Linked DNA regions of Homo sapiens: region 2 is linked to region 1. The links come from fine-mapping of genetic effects on gene expression. Tissue or cell type: sigmoid colon. Region 1 holds a variant in brackets; the other region holds the start of a gene. All regions are shown on one strand. Distances are between the middles of the regions.

Evidence for each region. PIP is the estimated chance that this variant, and not a neighbour inherited with it, causes the effect.
Region 2: it holds the start of EXO5-DT, and the variant in region 1 is fine-mapped to the expression of EXO5-DT in sigmoid colon (GTEx, PIP 0.95).

Annotation. Positions count from the first base shown.
Region 1 is chr1:40,667,330-40,675,437 of GRCh38, forward strand. LOC105378675 (a long non-coding RNA gene) reads left to right here. Exons shown (of 2, transcript XR_947238.3): 2 at 1-347. It also overlaps a transcript of RIMS3 not described here. Among named protein-coding and RNA genes, the nearest start is that of RIMS3, 5.7 kb to the left of the region's middle. RefSeq lists enhancers at 1,582-1,731, 1,792-1,841. The variant T/TA (reference allele first, on the strand shown) is at 4,142.
Region 2 is chr1:40,503,753-40,511,855 of GRCh38, forward strand. EXO5-DT (EXO5 divergent transcript) reads right to left here and starts at 4,943. Exons shown (of 2, transcript NR_187365.1): 1 at 4,837-4,943. EXO5 (exonuclease 5) reads left to right here and starts at 5,015. Exons shown (of 4, transcript NM_001346953.2): 1 at 5,015-5,156; 2 at 5,699-5,873; 3 at 5,981-6,038. RefSeq lists enhancers at 5,052-5,301, 5,332-5,421.

The DNA.
Region 1 (8,108 bases):
AGCAAGGGGGACTAGATTAGGGGAGGTGGGATGGAGGCCAGGGCAGGACCTGGAACGAGGGTGGAGGTGAGGGGTGGGAGCACAGAGAGGAATCAGGCTTCCTGTGTGCTCCTCCCTGGCCCCTTTCACAGAGACAGGTAAACCAGGGGTTCCCTTTGCACATCTGATGAAAACTTAGCACTATCTCTCTGGAGATGTGCAATGTATATTTTGCATATAATTTCAGTATCTTCAAAGTTCTATATTGGTTACCAGAAGGACTGGATGGGAGGTGGGTGGAGAGGGGGTTGATTCTTAAGTGTATATAGAAGAATAAACATACAGGAATAAAAAGTCCAGGAAGAAAAGTAATGAAAAGGGATTTGTCTTACCCGATACTAAAACATACTATAAAGTCAATGTATTTAAAGCAGTATGGTATTGAAGCAGGACTAGACCGATCTGTGGAACAAAATGGAGTATGGAAATGGATCCAGCCCCACAAGGGAATTCAATGTATGATAAAGATAGCACTTCAGGCCCGGCACAGTGGCTCATGCCAGTAATCCCAAAACTTTGGGAGGTTGAGGCGGGCAGATCACTTGAGACTAGCCTGGGCAACATGGCAAAACTTTGTCTCTATAAAAAAATACAAAACTTGTGGCCGGGGGCGGTGGCTCACACCTGTAATCCCAGCACTTTGGGAGGCCGAGGCAGGCGGATCACAAGATCAAGAGATTGAGACCATCCTAGCCAACATGGTGAAACCCTGTCTCAACTAAAAATACAAAAATTAGCTGGGTGTGGTGGCATGCACCTGTAGTCCCAACTACTTGGGAGACTGAGGCAGGAGAATCGCTTGAACCCAGGAGGCGGAGGTTGCAGTGAACTGAGATCGCACCACTGCACTCCAGCCTGGTAACAGAGCAAGACTCTGTCTCAAAAAAAAAAAAAAAAAAAAAATTTATCTGGGCATGATTGCACACACCTGTAGTCCCAGCTACCAGGGAGGCTGAAGTGGGAGGATTACCTGAGCCTGGGAGGTCAAGGCTGCAGTGAGCTGTGATCACGCCACTGCACTCCAGCCTGGGCAACAGAGCAAGACCTTGTCTCTAAATGAATGAATGAATAAAAGACAGCACTTCAGACAAATGGGGGGCGGAGTTGGTAGGGGGTTGTGGGCGGGGGGGGGGGGGTTGGTGGCGGAGATCAAATGGGTGGAATAACCAGCAAGTCTTTTGGGGAAATTACAAAAAGCTGTGCCCTTATTCGACACTGAAATAAATTCCAGGTGGACCACATATTTAACACCATAATGTATCAGAAAAAAGACATGAGTGAATATTTTAATAATCTTGGAGATGGAAAAGACTTTCTAAGCATGATGAAACCTAGAAGCCATAAGAGAAAACATGGAAATGTTTGACTACAAGGCTTCTATACAGAAGAAATGGCCATAAGTCAGTTTGAAAGACAAATGACAAAACGGAGGGGATATATCCTGGTTGCCCCCTACCCTGTCCCCTCCTGCCCGCCAGCCCCTCCAAGCCGAGACGGGGACGAGCAGGAGGGATGGCTGGGGCTGTGAGAGTCGAGACCGAGCACCTGGCAGAGGCTTCTCCTGCGGCGCTCTGGCCAGCGCCCACATGTTTAGGGGCCGGGAAGTCCCGGAAACCCCAGGCGGGCCATCTGGGTCCTCAGCAGGTGCCTTGGCACAGCCGAGCCGAAGTCCTCCTGGAGGCTGCTCACCACTTCCCTCGCGTGGCCATCCTAAGAACTGCAATCCTCTGTTCCTGCTCAGCCCCTTCTGAGCATCAAGGCGAGAATTTAAAAATAAATAAATAACAGCTAATTTTTTGAGGGAACTAACCATGTTCCAGGCATTGTGTTAAACACTTAACCTAGCATATTTCATTTTCCCCTCAAAACAGCTCTTCGAGGTAGGTGCACTGTATTCTTATCTCCATTTGATGGACGGAAACTGAGGCTTGAAAAAAGTGACTTGTCTTTCTAAGTGGTGGCACCAGAATTTACTGCCACATTCCTGGCCTCAGCTCTTAATGTAATAAAGCCAAACCTTTGGGAAAATTCAATAAAACAAACTTTTTTGAGGTTTACCTTTATCCAGGCCTTTTGCAGGTGCTGGGGATTCTGAATTGAGGAAAATAGTCATCAGAGGTGACAGCAGAGGAACACTCCTGATACAGCGAATCCTGATGGCTACAGAGGACTCATTCACCCCAGGAAGCGGTGGGGGCAGTGGGGAGGGATCCCAGAGGAGACGTCCTCCAAGCTGCATCTTGTGGAGAGAGAGTAGTGGGGTGGCACTTACTAAGGTGGGCTGGATGACAAGTGGGGCTTGGGGGAGGAGCAGTGATCTATATGCTCTGAGTTTGGGGGTAGACCACAGATGGGGCTGAATAAAGTACACCAGGACCAAGCTAAGGAGTTTGGGTGCAAAGATTTTTTTGAAAGCTTTTCCATGTTTCAGTTGCTTGGGTCTAGGGACAGCCTGCTCTGCCAACCCAACCTGCCTCCTTTGCAGATGCTTTCTCACCCCAGTTCAAGGTGCTCTCAGAAACTTGGGAGTCCCTCCTGATTCCTTCCTCTTCCTCACTTCTATCCACTTAATTATCAGAGCCATCCAGTTTGCTTCCTAAATACTTCCTAGGTTCACCCACTTCTCTCCATCCCTCTTGCCTCTCCTCTAGTCCAGCCTGCCTTCCTGTCACTCCTGAATTCAGCTGCTGTTGGTGACTTGGTCTCACCACCTTCAAACTTTTACACAAGAGAAATCCTTCTAAAACAAATCTGACCACATCCCCTCTCTTACTGAAAATGCTTTTCATTGATTCATTCAACAAATATCAAGTATTTATTATATGTTGAATATTCAAGATATAATTATGAGCAAAACATGGAATTTAAAGCCTATGGGGGTGACAGACATGAACCAAATCACCCCCTAAATAATTGTATAATAAAAACTGGGTTAGATGCTATGGGAGGGACTGGCCTAGACAGGGAGATCTTTGAATGCTCCCCAAGGCATCCCATCTGAAGCTTGAATAGCAGTCAGCCAGATCAACAAGCCAAGGATGGGTAAGAGCTTACACAAAGGCCCTGAAGTTGCTTCTCTGAGTTTCTGTTTCCTTGTCTGTATAATGGGAATATTTAGAGTTATGAGGATTAAATGAGTTAATATGTGTAAAGTTCTTAGAACAGACCTTAGGATATAAATTTTCCATAAGTGTTAGTTATAATTTTATATATATATATATATATATATATATATATATATTTGAGATGGAGTCTCACTCTGTTACCCAGGAGGCAGTGGCGTGATCTCTGCTCACTGCAATCTCCGCCTCCCAGGTTGAAGCAATTCTTCTGCCTCAGCCTCCTGGGTAGCTGGGATTACAGGCATGTGCCACTACGCCTGGCTAATTTTTGTGTTTTTTGTAGAGATGGGGTTTCACCATATTGGCCAGGCTAGTCTTGAATCCTGATCCACCCACCTCAGCCTCCCAAAGTGCTGGGATTACAGGAGTGAGCCACTGCGCCTGGCCAATAACTTAATAATATATATTTTTTTAAGTGGAGAGATATTGGAAATCTTTCAGCAAAGGAGTTAAAGGAGAAAGTAGCATTTTTTAAATGTCACTCCAGCTGCAATGAGGAGCATGGATTAGTACAAAGAAAGAGCAGATTTGGGGAAACTAATGAGACTTTTGCAGGGGTCCATTGAGAGCTATGGGGATTTGGGCTAGGGAGGCAGAGGGAAATTGGAGAGATTTTGTGGTTTAGGTAGTAGACACTGCTGGACTTGCTGTTTTATTGGTAGTGGGAGGCTGTAGGAGGTAGGTGGTCCCTACAACTGGTTGGGTGGTGATGTTCTTCACCAAGACAGGGAAGCCTGAATGATGCCTAGGCCTTGGGGGGGATGCTGATTCTGGATGTGTTTAGATGCACACACTGTGGGACATCCCAGATGAGGGCTGCATAGGCAGCTGATTCACTGTGGAGTTCAGAAGAGAAACTGTGGCTGGAGATACAAAACTAAGATTGTTGGTGATATGGTTTGGATCTGTGTTCCCACCTAAATCTCATGTCAAATTTGTAATCCCCAGTGTTGGAGGTGGGGCCTGGTGGGAGATGATTA[T/TA]ACTAGGGGTGGTTTCTCATGAATGGTTTAGCACCATCCCCTTGGTGCTCTTCTCATTATAGTGAGTGAGTTCTCATGAGATCCAGTTGTTTAAAAGTGTGTGGCACCACCCGACCACTCTGTCTTGCTCCTGCTCCTGCCATGTAAGACGCGCTGGCTCCCCCTTTGCCTTCAGCCATGATTGGAAGCTTCCTGAGGCTTCCCCAGAAGGCAAGCAGATGCTAGTATCATGCTTCCTGTACAGCCTGTGGAACTCTGAGCCAATTAAACCCCTTTCCTTTCTTTTCTTTTTTTTTTTTTTTTTTTGATGGAGTCTCACTCTGTCACCTAGGCTTAGGCTGGAGTGCAGTGGCGTGATCTCAGCTCACTGCAACCTCCACCTCCCAGGTTCAAGGGATTCTCCTACCTCAGTCTCCCAAGTAGCTGTGACTACAGGCATGTACCACCATGCCCAGCTAATTATTTTTGGTAGAGACAGGGTTTTACCATGTTGCCCAGGCTGGTCTCGAACTCCTGATCTCAAGTGATCTGCCCACCTCAGCCTCCCAAAGTGCTGAGATTACAGGCATGAGCCACCGTGCCCAGCCTCCCTTTTCTTTATAAATTACCCAGTCTCAGGTATTTCCTTATAGCAATGCAAGAACAGACTAATACAGTTGGCAAATAAGTGATCACCTCAATCACCCCATCTTTGAGATGGTAGAGGTAGGAGATAGCTAGATGATTTTTTTTTTTTTTTTTTTTTTGAGACGGAGTCTCGCTCTTTCACCCAGGCCGGACTGCAGTGGTGCTATCTCGGCTCACTGCAAGCTCCGCCTCCCGGGTTCACACCATTCTCCTGCCTCAGCCTCCTGAGTAGCTGGGACTACAGGTGCCCGCCACCACGCCCAGCTAATTTTTTGTATTTTTAGTAGAGACGGGGTTTCACCGTGTTAGCCAAGATGGTCTCGATCTCCTGACCTCGTGATCCACCTGCCTCGGCCTCCTAAAGTGCTGGGATTACAGGCGTGAGCCACCGTGCCTGGCCGCTAGATGATTTTTAAGGTTTCTTCTGGTTCAAACACGCATAGGATTCCAAGTGTTAAGGTCAGTAGGACTCCAGAGACAGAGAGAAAATCGATGTGGTCTGAAAGACTTGGCAGAAGCTCCTTGGAGGCTATTTGTTATTCATTCATCAGTCTTTTACTGAGCAGCTACTCTGAGCCACATGCTCTATTGGGGGTGGAAGGGTAAATAAGACCTAGCCGCCAAACCAGTGTGGTGGCTGACATTTGTAATTTCAGCTACTCAGGAGGCTGAGGCAGAAGACTGCTTGAGTCCAGGAGTTCAAGGCTACAGTAAACTGATTGTATCACTGCACTCCAGCCTAGGTGACAGGGTAAGACCCCATCTCTGGAGAAAAAAAAAAAAAAAAGGCCGGGCATGGTGGATTACAGGCTGTGATTATGCCTGTAATCCTGGCACTGTGGAAGGCCAAGGCAGGTGGATTGCTTGAGGTCAGGAGTTCAAGACCAATCTGACCAACATGGTGAAAACCTGTCTCTACTAAAAATACAAAAATTAGCGGAGCGTGGTGGCAGGTGCCTGTAATCCCAGCCACTTGGGAGGCTGAAGCAAGAGAATTGCTTGAAACTGGGAGGCGGAGGTTGCAGTGAGCCAAGAATGCACCACTGCACTCCAGCCTGGAGACACAGCAAGGCTCCATCTCAAAAAAAAAAGCATCTCAGGGTCTCAGGCTTGTTAGACCAAGGAATGTTTCCTAAAGGAAGTAACAACTAAGATTAAGACCCAAAAGTCAGGTAAAAGAAAGCTCCCTCCTCTTGAATTTTTCACTTTAGACTTTACCATGCACTCTCAGAGTCCATTCCAGGAACAAAGGCCCAGGCAATAGCAGTTGCACTTCCTAGGTTCTGCTGAATTTTCCTTCTTCTCTGAGATCCTTCTTCTCAATGTTCCCTCTGGCCTCATCTTCACATTCTCCGCCAGGGCTAGGAATAGGGTCAGGGCAAAGGGACCGAGGGTACAGAAGTAGGGAGGCGCTCACTCATGGGTCGTGCAATGTGCTCCTGGCCCTCTTCCCACTCACACCCCCACTCTAGCTTTTCCCTGTACTCTGCTGGCATCTTGCTATTCCCACATGTGGCTTCCTCTGTTTACAGTGAGCCTTGCCAACACTTGACTGAGGAAAGCTTGCTCATGATGAGCTCAGATGTCACCTCCTCCTGGAAGTCCACTGCTTTCTCCAGTCGTCCCTGTCCTTCTACCTAGGCCAAGATGGTCCCCTGTGCTCTAACAGCATGGTGAAGACTGCACAGTGGTTAACAGAACAGGCTTTAGCATCAGAGCCCTGCTGTGCTGTTTATTATCTGTGGATCACTCTCTGAGCCTGTTTCCTTCCACATGTGTGAAATGTGGTGCTGGCATCACAGGGGAGTTGTAAAGATTAAATGAGAAAACATATGTAAAGTGATCAGCAGTGACTGGTATACGTACCAGTCAGATACATGATATAATAAAGATAAAGACAAGAAAATAATGAGAATAAATGAACACTTTAGAAGATGCATAAACAATAACAGTAGCTACCGCTTACAGTAAGTGGTTATTGTTTATACTTCTTCTAAAGTGCTCATGTTTTCTAATTATTTTCCTGCCTTTATCTTCATTATATCATAAGCTTCTGGGGGCAAGAAGGAAGAAGAGGAGGAGGAAGAAGATATTCATAATTGACATTTAACAAGCATTACGACATGTCTGCTGAATAAAGAAATGACAATTTCATGGGAAATGTTCTGGGCAGGAAATCTGGAATCCTGAGCTCCAATCACATGGTCCTAGTGATGGTACAGTTTCTGCCTCACTCACATTCACTTTAAGGAAAAGCTGCCCAGACCACAAACCCTGCTGGGGCCACGCTTTAAACCACCTGGCCCCTCCAGCCTCTAGACTTGAGCAGATAGGGCCAGCACCGGAGTCAAGGGTCACCATTTAATATATTAGCTGCTGTCCTCTGACCAATGGTGTATACTATGGTGTGAATGTGTTCCCCAAGGTTCATGTGCTGGAAACTTAATCCCCAAGGCAACAGTGTTGAGAGGAGGGACCTTCAGGAGGTGATTAGGTCATGGGGACTCTGCCATCATAAATAAATTAATGACGATATTGAGGGAGTGGGTTCCTGATAAAAGGATGCATTCAACCCCATTTCTTCTTCTCTCTCTCTTTCTCTCTCCCCTTCTCTCTGTCCCTCTCATGCTGTCTTGCTCTCTTGCCCTTCACCTGCTGCCATGGAATACACAGCAAGAAGGCCCTTGCCAGGTGTGCACCCCTAAACCTTAGACTTACCAGGCTTTAGAGCTGTAAGAAATATATTTCTATACCTTATAAATTACCTAGTTTCAGATATTCTGATATAGCAGCACAAAATGAACTAAGACAACCTAGCACAACAATCTAAGATGGGCTGATTCGAGGCTTTATTGAACCAAGGAAGAGAAAGACATTGTTGTCCCAGGCATGGCGCCTCACACACAAAACCCCAGAACTTCGAGAGGTCAAGGTGGGAGGATCAGTTAAGCCCAGGAGCTCAAGACCAGCCTGGACAACAGTGAGACTTTGTCTCTACGAAAGGAAAAAAAATTTTTTTTAATTAGCCAAGCATGGTGGTGCATGCCTGTATTCTCAGCTACTTTGGAGGCTGAGGTGGGAGGATCATTTGAGCCTGGGAGGCAGAGGTGGCAGTGAGCCAAGATCGTGCCATGCCACTGCACTACAGCCTGGGTGATAGAGTGAGACCCTGTCTCAGGAAAAAAAAAAAAGGAAAGAAATTGTCAGGTGGCAGAAGGAGTTGAAGTAGAGAAGTCAGAGACAGCCAGGTATGGTGGCTCATGCCTGTAATTCCAACCGGTTGGGAGGCTGAGGCAAGTGGATCACTTGAGTCCAGGAATTCATGACCAGCCTAAGCAAC
Region 2 (8,103 bases), 160 kb before region 1:
GGCTTTCATGGTCCTGGAAGCTACTAGCAGTGGAAGAGGAGGGAGGCTGCCGGATATGGAGCAAACACAGGAGAAACAGATCCAAGAAATGGAAAGAGAAAACCCCTTGACTCAAGGGTTCATAATGTACCATATCCGAAGCTGCCTTCTTTTAGCAGAAGCATGCCCCAGTCGTTCATCCTTAGCTCATTCTCACCCCCCACAACTTCCTGGCCTAGGGCTACCTCCTCCTGCTTTCTCCGACTAAAAATGCCCCTTTCAATTGCCAGAAATTGGAGTTTGACTCAAGAGAGAGGCTGATTCTCATATAAGGAATAGAAGATTCTCAAATACTGAATATTGTCAATGGAGTTCTCTTGAGCATGTAAAGAGTATGCCGATTATTGCCCCTATACCTGTGAGGAACACAATTTGAGCAAGATAAATTCTCTTCCTTTAAGGCTCTGATACTCCAGAGCAGCACTGTACAACAGAAATATAATGTAAGCCACAACACAAATGCAAACATATGTAATTTTAAATTTTCTAGCAGCTACATTAATACAACAAAAAACAGCAAGTAAAATTAATTTTTTTTTAAAGACAGAGTCACTCTGTTGCCCAGGCTGGAGTGCAGTAGTGCAGTCTTGGTTCACTGCAACCTCTGCCTCCTGGGTTCAAGAGATTCTCATGCCTCAGCCTCCTGAGTAGCTGGGACTACAGGCACATGCCACTATGCCTGGCTAATTTCTGTATTTGTAGTAGAGATGGGGTTTTGCCATGTTGGCCAGGCTGGTCTTGAAATCCTGACCTCAGGTGATTCACCCACCTTGGCCTCCCATAGTGCTGGAATTACAGGCATGAGCCACCACACCCAGCTTAATTTTAAGATGTTTTATTTAACTCAGTTTTATTAGTCTGTTCTCATGCTGCTAATAAAGACATACCCAAGACTGGGTAATTTATAAAGGAAAGAGGTTTAATGGCCTCACCATTGCACATGGCTGGAGAGGCCTCACAATCATGGCGGGAGGCGAAGGAAGAGCAGGCATGTCTTACATGGCAGCAGGCAAGAAGCTTGTGTAGGGGAACTCCCCTTTATAAAACCATCAGATATTGTGAGACTTATTCACTATCACGGGAACAGCACAGGAAAAACTCGTCCCCATGATTCAATTGCCTACCACTGGGTCCCTCCCATGACACATGGGGATTATTAAAATTCAAGGTGAGATTTGGGTGGAAAACACAGAGCCAAACCATATCACCAATATATCCAAAACATTATCATCTCAACATTTAATCAATGTAAACATTATTAGTGAGTTATTTAACCTTTTTTTTGTACTCAGCTTCAAAGTGCTTGTAAATGTTATAATTATAGCACATTTCATTTTGGACTAGCCACATTTCAAGTGTTCAAGAGCCACATATGACTAGTGGCTACTGTATTGGACAGTGCAGCTCTGGGAGTAATCACATAAAGACTTACTCCGATATATGGTAGACTGTAGTCAGTACAATGTTAGGGGTACAGTCCTGTGCTCCAAAACACCAAGGAGGGAAGAATGGACACAGAGGAAAATGGGCCATTTGTGTCTAACAGTATTTTGATGGTTACAGACCTGGAGATGGAAGAACCAAATCAGTGACTTTTGCATACAGGTGGGCCTTAAGGACTCAGACTTCCTAGGATAGCCTTTTGGGGAAAAGGGCATTCTTTTCTCAGTTTTGAGACCCACAGTCTTTAGGCTGAAAGTTTTGGGGAATATATGGTACTATGTTTTTGATATTTATTTTCCCCACAAATTCCATGACTGTTTCTAAATCTCTTCTGCTTCACTCTACCCAGTGTCATTGCCCCTCAAACCCCATTTGAGGAGTGGTCCATGTGTGAAGGGGTTGGGGAGGGGTTTTCCTGGCATTCAGTTTACATCTCAAGTAAGAAAGGTTATGTTGGGGAAGAGGCAGAAAGTTTTTGTAGCCTCAATCCAGAAATGCCTTCTCATATCTCAATGGATTAAAAAGCATTTCCTCAATGATATGGTTTGGTTGTCTCCCAACCCAAATCTCATCTTGAAGTGTAGCTCCCATAATTCCCACATATCATGGAAGAGGTACCTGGTAGGAGGTAATTGAATCGTGGGGGCAGGTCTTTCCCATGCTGTTCTCGTGATAGTGAATAAGTCTCACAAGATCTGATGGTTTTGTTTTGTTTCGTTTTTGTTTTTGAGATGGAATTTCACTCTTGTTGCCCAGGCTGGAGTGCAGTGGCGCGATCTCAGCTCACCACAACCTCCGCCTCCCAGGTTCAAGTGATTCTCCTGCCTCAGCCTCCCGAATAGCTGGGATTACAGGCGTCTGCCACCATGCTTGGCTAATTTTTTGTATTTTTAGTAGAGATAGGGTTTCACCATGTTGGCCAGGCTGGTCTTGAACTCCTGACCTTAGGTGATCCACCAGCCATGGCCTCCCAAAGTGCTGGGATTACGGGCATAAGGCACCACACCCAGCTGACCTGATGGTTTTATAAAGGTGTGTTCCCCTGCACATGTTCTCTCTTGCCTGCCACCATGTAAGAGGTGACTTTGCTCCTCCTTCACCTTCCTCCATGATTGTGAGGCCTCCCCCGCCATGTGGAGCCGTGAGTCAATTAAATCTCTTTCCTTTATAAATTACCCAATCTCAGGTATGTCTTTATTAGCAGCATGAGAACAGACTATTTAATACACTTAAATTCCATTTTTTTTTTTTTTTTTTTTTGAGACAAGAGTCTCAGTCAGCCACCCAGGCTGGAGTGCAGTGGCATGATCTCGGCTCACTGCAACCACCATCTCCCGGTTTCAAGCGATTCTCCCATCTCAGCCTCCCGAGTAGCTAGGATTACAGGCACCTGCCATCATGCCCGGCTAATTTTTGTATTTTAGTAGAGACAGGGTTTCACCATGTTGGCCAGGCTGGTCTTGAACTCCTGACTTCAGGTGATCCGCCCGCCTCGGCCTCCCAAAGTGCTAGGATTACAGGCGAGAGCCACCGTACCTGGCCTCAACTTACATATTTCTAAGAAAAAGAACATTTTCCTACATAACCACAAAATCATTATGACACTCAGGAGACCTATAATTGATTGATAATATTATCTAAAACACAAGTCACTTCAAAATTTTCCCAACTGACGCACCAGAGTAGCTGGGACTACAGGCACGTATCACCACCCCCAGCTAATTTTTGTATTTTTTGTAGAGACGTGTTTTCACCATGTTACCCCAGCTGGTTTCTGAACTGAGCTCAAGGGATCCACCCACTTCGGCCTCCCAGAGTTCTAGGATTACAGGTGTGTGAGCCACTGCACTCAGCCTGTAGTTGTCTTAATTTAATGTTTCTCTTTCTTTCTTTTCTTTTCTTTCTTTCTCTTTCTTTCTTTTTCTTTCCTTTTTTCTCTTTCTTTTTTTCCTTTTTTTTTTTGAGACAGAGTCTCACTTTATCACCCAGGCTGGAGTGCAGTGGCCTGTTGTCGGCTCACTGCAAACTCCGCCTCCCAGGTTCAAGTGATTCTCCTGCCTCAGCCTCCCAAGTAGCTGAGATTACAGGCACCTGCCACCACACTTGGCTAATTTTTTGTATTTTTACTAGAAACGGGGTTTCACTATGTTGGCCAGGCTGGTCTCAACTCCTGACCTCAAGTGATCCGCCTACCTGGGCCTCCCAAAGTGTTGGTATTACAGGCATGAGCCACCATGCCTGGCCAATTTAATGTTTTTCTATTTTTGTTTTAAAATATTTACCTATTCTGAAGTCCAAAGATATTTTCCTATATTATATTCTGAAGACTTTATAGTTTAGGATTTCACATTTAGGTCTTAATCCAGCTACAATTGATTTTTGTGATGAAATGAGAGATAGAGGTCCTGTTTTCTGTTTTGTTTTTTTTTTTGAGACGGAGTCTCCCTCTGTTGCCCAGGCTGAAGTGCAGTGGTGTGATCTCCGCTCACTGCAACCTCCGCCTCCCGGTTCAAGCGATTCTCCTGCTTCAGCCTCCTGAATAGCTGGGACTACAGGTGTGTGCCACCACACCCAGCTAATTTTTGTACTTTTTAGTAGAGACAGGGTTTCACCATGTTGGCCAGGATGGTCTCGATCTCTTAACCTCGTGATCCGCCCACCTCAGCCTCCCAAAGTGCTGGGATTACAGGCGTGAGCCACCGTGCCCGGCCTTCATATTGTCATAGAACCTTCACTGAATAGACCATCTTTTCTCCATGGCTGTATGATGCCACCTTTGTCATAAATCCAGTTTTCAAGTATGCGTGATAAACCGTAAAGAAAAGCAAAGAGTCAAGTATCTGCTTTTGGTAAAATAAATAAATAAATAAATATAAATAAGAAAAGCAAAGTGTTATAAAAGTCGGGCTAGTGGTTTTCTCAGGAAGTGTATCTGTGAAGAACCTGACACTATTCTTTTTTCGCTCTAATGACTTGGCTGTTCATAATTATACTTATCTTTGGTTTATATTTCAGAATAAAATTGTGTTATATTTATCAATAAAAGGTTAGTTAAAAGTAAGCAAACAGAAAAAAAAAAAGAAATATTGATGAGGGGAGCGCCAGCATCTCTCAAAAGTGAGTTCGTGGTTTTGCTCTCAATGGAAAAGCCGGCGGGAGGTGCTAAGGTGGGGATGCTGAATCCACGGATGGCCAAGCGGAGACGCGGCACTTCACCGGGGGCAGCGAGGGGCCCAGACCTTGCTCGGATTGTCCCGGTGGTAACTGGGAGACCTCGCCAGTGAGGGAAGTTACAGATCAGCTGCGCCCGGAATTAAACGACCCACAGACAACGGCGCAAACAGAGGGACTGACCTGCTTTAGTGAGCTCCCAAAACCTGCTCTCGCATAAGCACACCCTCCTCCGCTCACAGAGACGGATTTCTGCCCCAGCCGCAGCCTCGCGAGGTAGGCGGCGCCGCGAGGGCCTCTGGGAAGGCGGTCCGTGGGCAGCCGCGGGGCACTCTGGGACTGGGCTCTGGGCGGCTTTTTTGCGAGTGGCGGGCCGACTGTGTAGTCCGCTCCGGCAGCGCGCTCTGCCCGGCTTCCTCAGTCTCCTCGCCGGGAGCGTCCGGGAGCAGCTCCGAGGCCGCGGCGAAACCAGGTGGAGTCCGAGGTTCGGAGGAGTATCAGAGGTTAGGGGAAGGCCGGAGAATGGGCTGGGAGGCTGCGTTTCGGAGCTTAGGGTTCTGTCCCTGCGATCGCCGCGTCTCCCTCCCTTGGTGGGCGCGGCTCCCGGGAAGCGGCTCGTCTCGTCTCCCCTCACAGGCCGGGTTCCCGTTCTGGACCTTCGCCCTCGGAACACAGTGCTGTTGGCCGGGACTCCTTCCCGAGGTGGACGGCTCCCTGTTCTTATTCCTGGCTCTGCCAGAACTGTAGGAAGTGCTCAGTACACTTTAGGGCATGCATGGCACTCCCTGGGAGACAGTGCTTTAGGGCCAGAGGAAAGATCTTCCCTGAAGGCAAACGCCCGCGGAGCCCACAAGTCCGGGCCGCACTGAACAAGTCAGGATGTTGCCATCGGCAATTCTGCAGAAGGCAGTAACCCATCTGAGAGAAAGAGCCGCTGTCATAAGGTCTCTTGCTTGAGCTGCTGGGTTGAGAATGGAGCTGGAAGAGGGAACTGATCTCGGAGCTCCTTGGGGATCTTGGTTATGTCTGACCCTTTTACTTTCAGGGAGCAGGGATTGGATCAAGTCATTGCATCTAGAGTACGGGGGAACGAAGAAATCATGGAGAGAGTTTGCCCCAGGAGAGAGGCGAGCGTTATGTAACCTAGGATCTGGGGTGGGTAACAGTCTGTGCAGTGTCAATGTGAGAGGAGAAAACACCCAACGTGAGGGAATGGTCAGGTAAGAAAGGACCAGAAGTTCCGGTTCTACCATAGCAAGGACCTAAGTTGCTAATTTAGGTTCTTTAATGCAGACCTGGTCTTTCAGAACTTCTTTCTCTTCCCTAGCCTTGTCATTTCAGCATTCTGGCCTTCCCTATGAGGAGGAAGATCAACGAAGTCACAGGTGAATAGGAGTTTCTCTTCTAAAGTTTCATCTCCTTTGTCAGGGGGAATCGATACACTCTCTCATCTCTTCCTTGGGGAAAAAGAAGGAGATCTATCTTCATCGAGTGCTAATATGCGTACTATATGTTATCACTCAATGGTCGGATATCTCAGTAGGGTTAGTAGGTATTTTAAAAATGTGTCAGTAACTTCAGGAAAACTAGAACCTTGTCCAAGCTTACTCAAAAGGCAAGTAGCATACTACTAAATGCTACCGAACTACTCAGGATTAGGTTTAGAATCCATATCTGTAGGACTCCCAGACTCTTGGCATTATGCTGTTTCCCAGCATCCCATTCACTTACTACCTAACAATTTTGCCATACCTGTGTACTACCTGTATTATTCTATGTTTTTACTTACTTTTTTTTTTTATAAAAATCAAACTTGTCCTAAGAAACAATATCTGTGAAATTAGCCATTTGATGGCTGCTCCAATAACAGTATAGTTATTCTAAGGTGTATCTAAAAATGTTGGTCCATGTGCTATGTAAAATCGTCTCGTGTCAGACATACAAACTACAATTTGGGACACAATGCACTGCATTATGCTCTCTTCTGGATTCTTTTCTGCGTAGGAAAGTCCCAGACACATCTGAGCATCAGTCATCCATCCCTAGTGTACTGTTTTATTCTTATAGATGAATACTTTCACAGAGAATGCCCTGCTTTGTATCTTCTCCAAAAGACATTTCACTTCCCTGTTTAGAACTACCTGTTCTCAATGTTGTATGTAAAACAAGTAGGAACTCCATACATTTCAGGAGCTTCCTCTCTCTTTGGGGAGTTAATGTGTACACAGGAAATAGTCTAACTCTATGCTGTTCAGTAGAGCTTTCTGTGATCAGGGAATGTTCTGTATCTGTGCCTTATCTGTATCCACCAGCCAGATGTAGCTACTGAGCACTTAATATATGGCTAGTGCAACTGAGATGTGAATTTTATTTTATTTTAATTAAATTTAAGTAGCCACATATGGCTAGTGGCTACTAATGGCTACCATATTGGACAGCCAGGTCTAGATATTTGAAATAAAATATTTTAAGGTTATTGATTTGGACTTGGAGTTCCCCCTCACCCTCACAAATACCTCATAGCATATGTGTTATAAATGCCCTTTAGGGCTGGGTGCGGTGGCTCACGCCTGTAATCACAGCACTTTGGGAGGCCGAGGCGGGTGCATCACGAGGTCAGGAGATCGAGACCATCCTGGCTAACACGATGAAACCCCGTCTCTACTAAAAAATACAAAAATTAGCTGGGCGCGGTGGCGGGTGCCTGTAGTCCCAGCTACTCGGGAGGCTGAGGCAGGAGAATGGCGTGAACCCGGGAGGCAGAGCTTGCAGTGAGCTGAGATCCCGCCACTGCACTCCAGCCTGGGTGAAAGAGTGAGACTCTGTCTCAAAAAATAAAATAAAAGAAAAGAAAAAATAAATGCCCTTTAACTTTAGTTTCTTGGTGAAGGGTAAATATTCTTTCCAATTTTCAGAGACTTCATAGTTGAAATAAAGTTTCTTGAAATTATTTAAAGCACATTGACAGTTTATAACACTTGTGTAAATGCACAGCTTCTGTATTTTGTTACTATTGAAATATCCTGTAAAGCAATAATGTTGTAGGATACTCTATAAGCAAAAGTCTTACTATTGTATTATTTTTATTCATTGCAGATAACTTTTCTTCTAGCTATCTATGTTTTCTTTCATTAGTGACATTTAGACTATTTAAAAATCAGTTAAACACAACCACAACTGATATTAATGACGTTTTCAGGGCATCACTTCTTACGCTTTGACATAGGAGTTGGTGCATTCACCTTATTTCACTGCTTATTAGAATAGCAAGAAGGGGACATTTGGTTCATAGCTATCTCTATCAGCTAAAATTCTATGTCAAATTATTTATTTTCCTGGCACTCAAAGTCAAACACTAATGGACTGGTTGTATCTTGTTTTGCTTACTCTCTATGCAGGTTAGATATGTGGGGTTAGAAGGAAGGCTTAAAAAGAGTATCTTCATAAGAT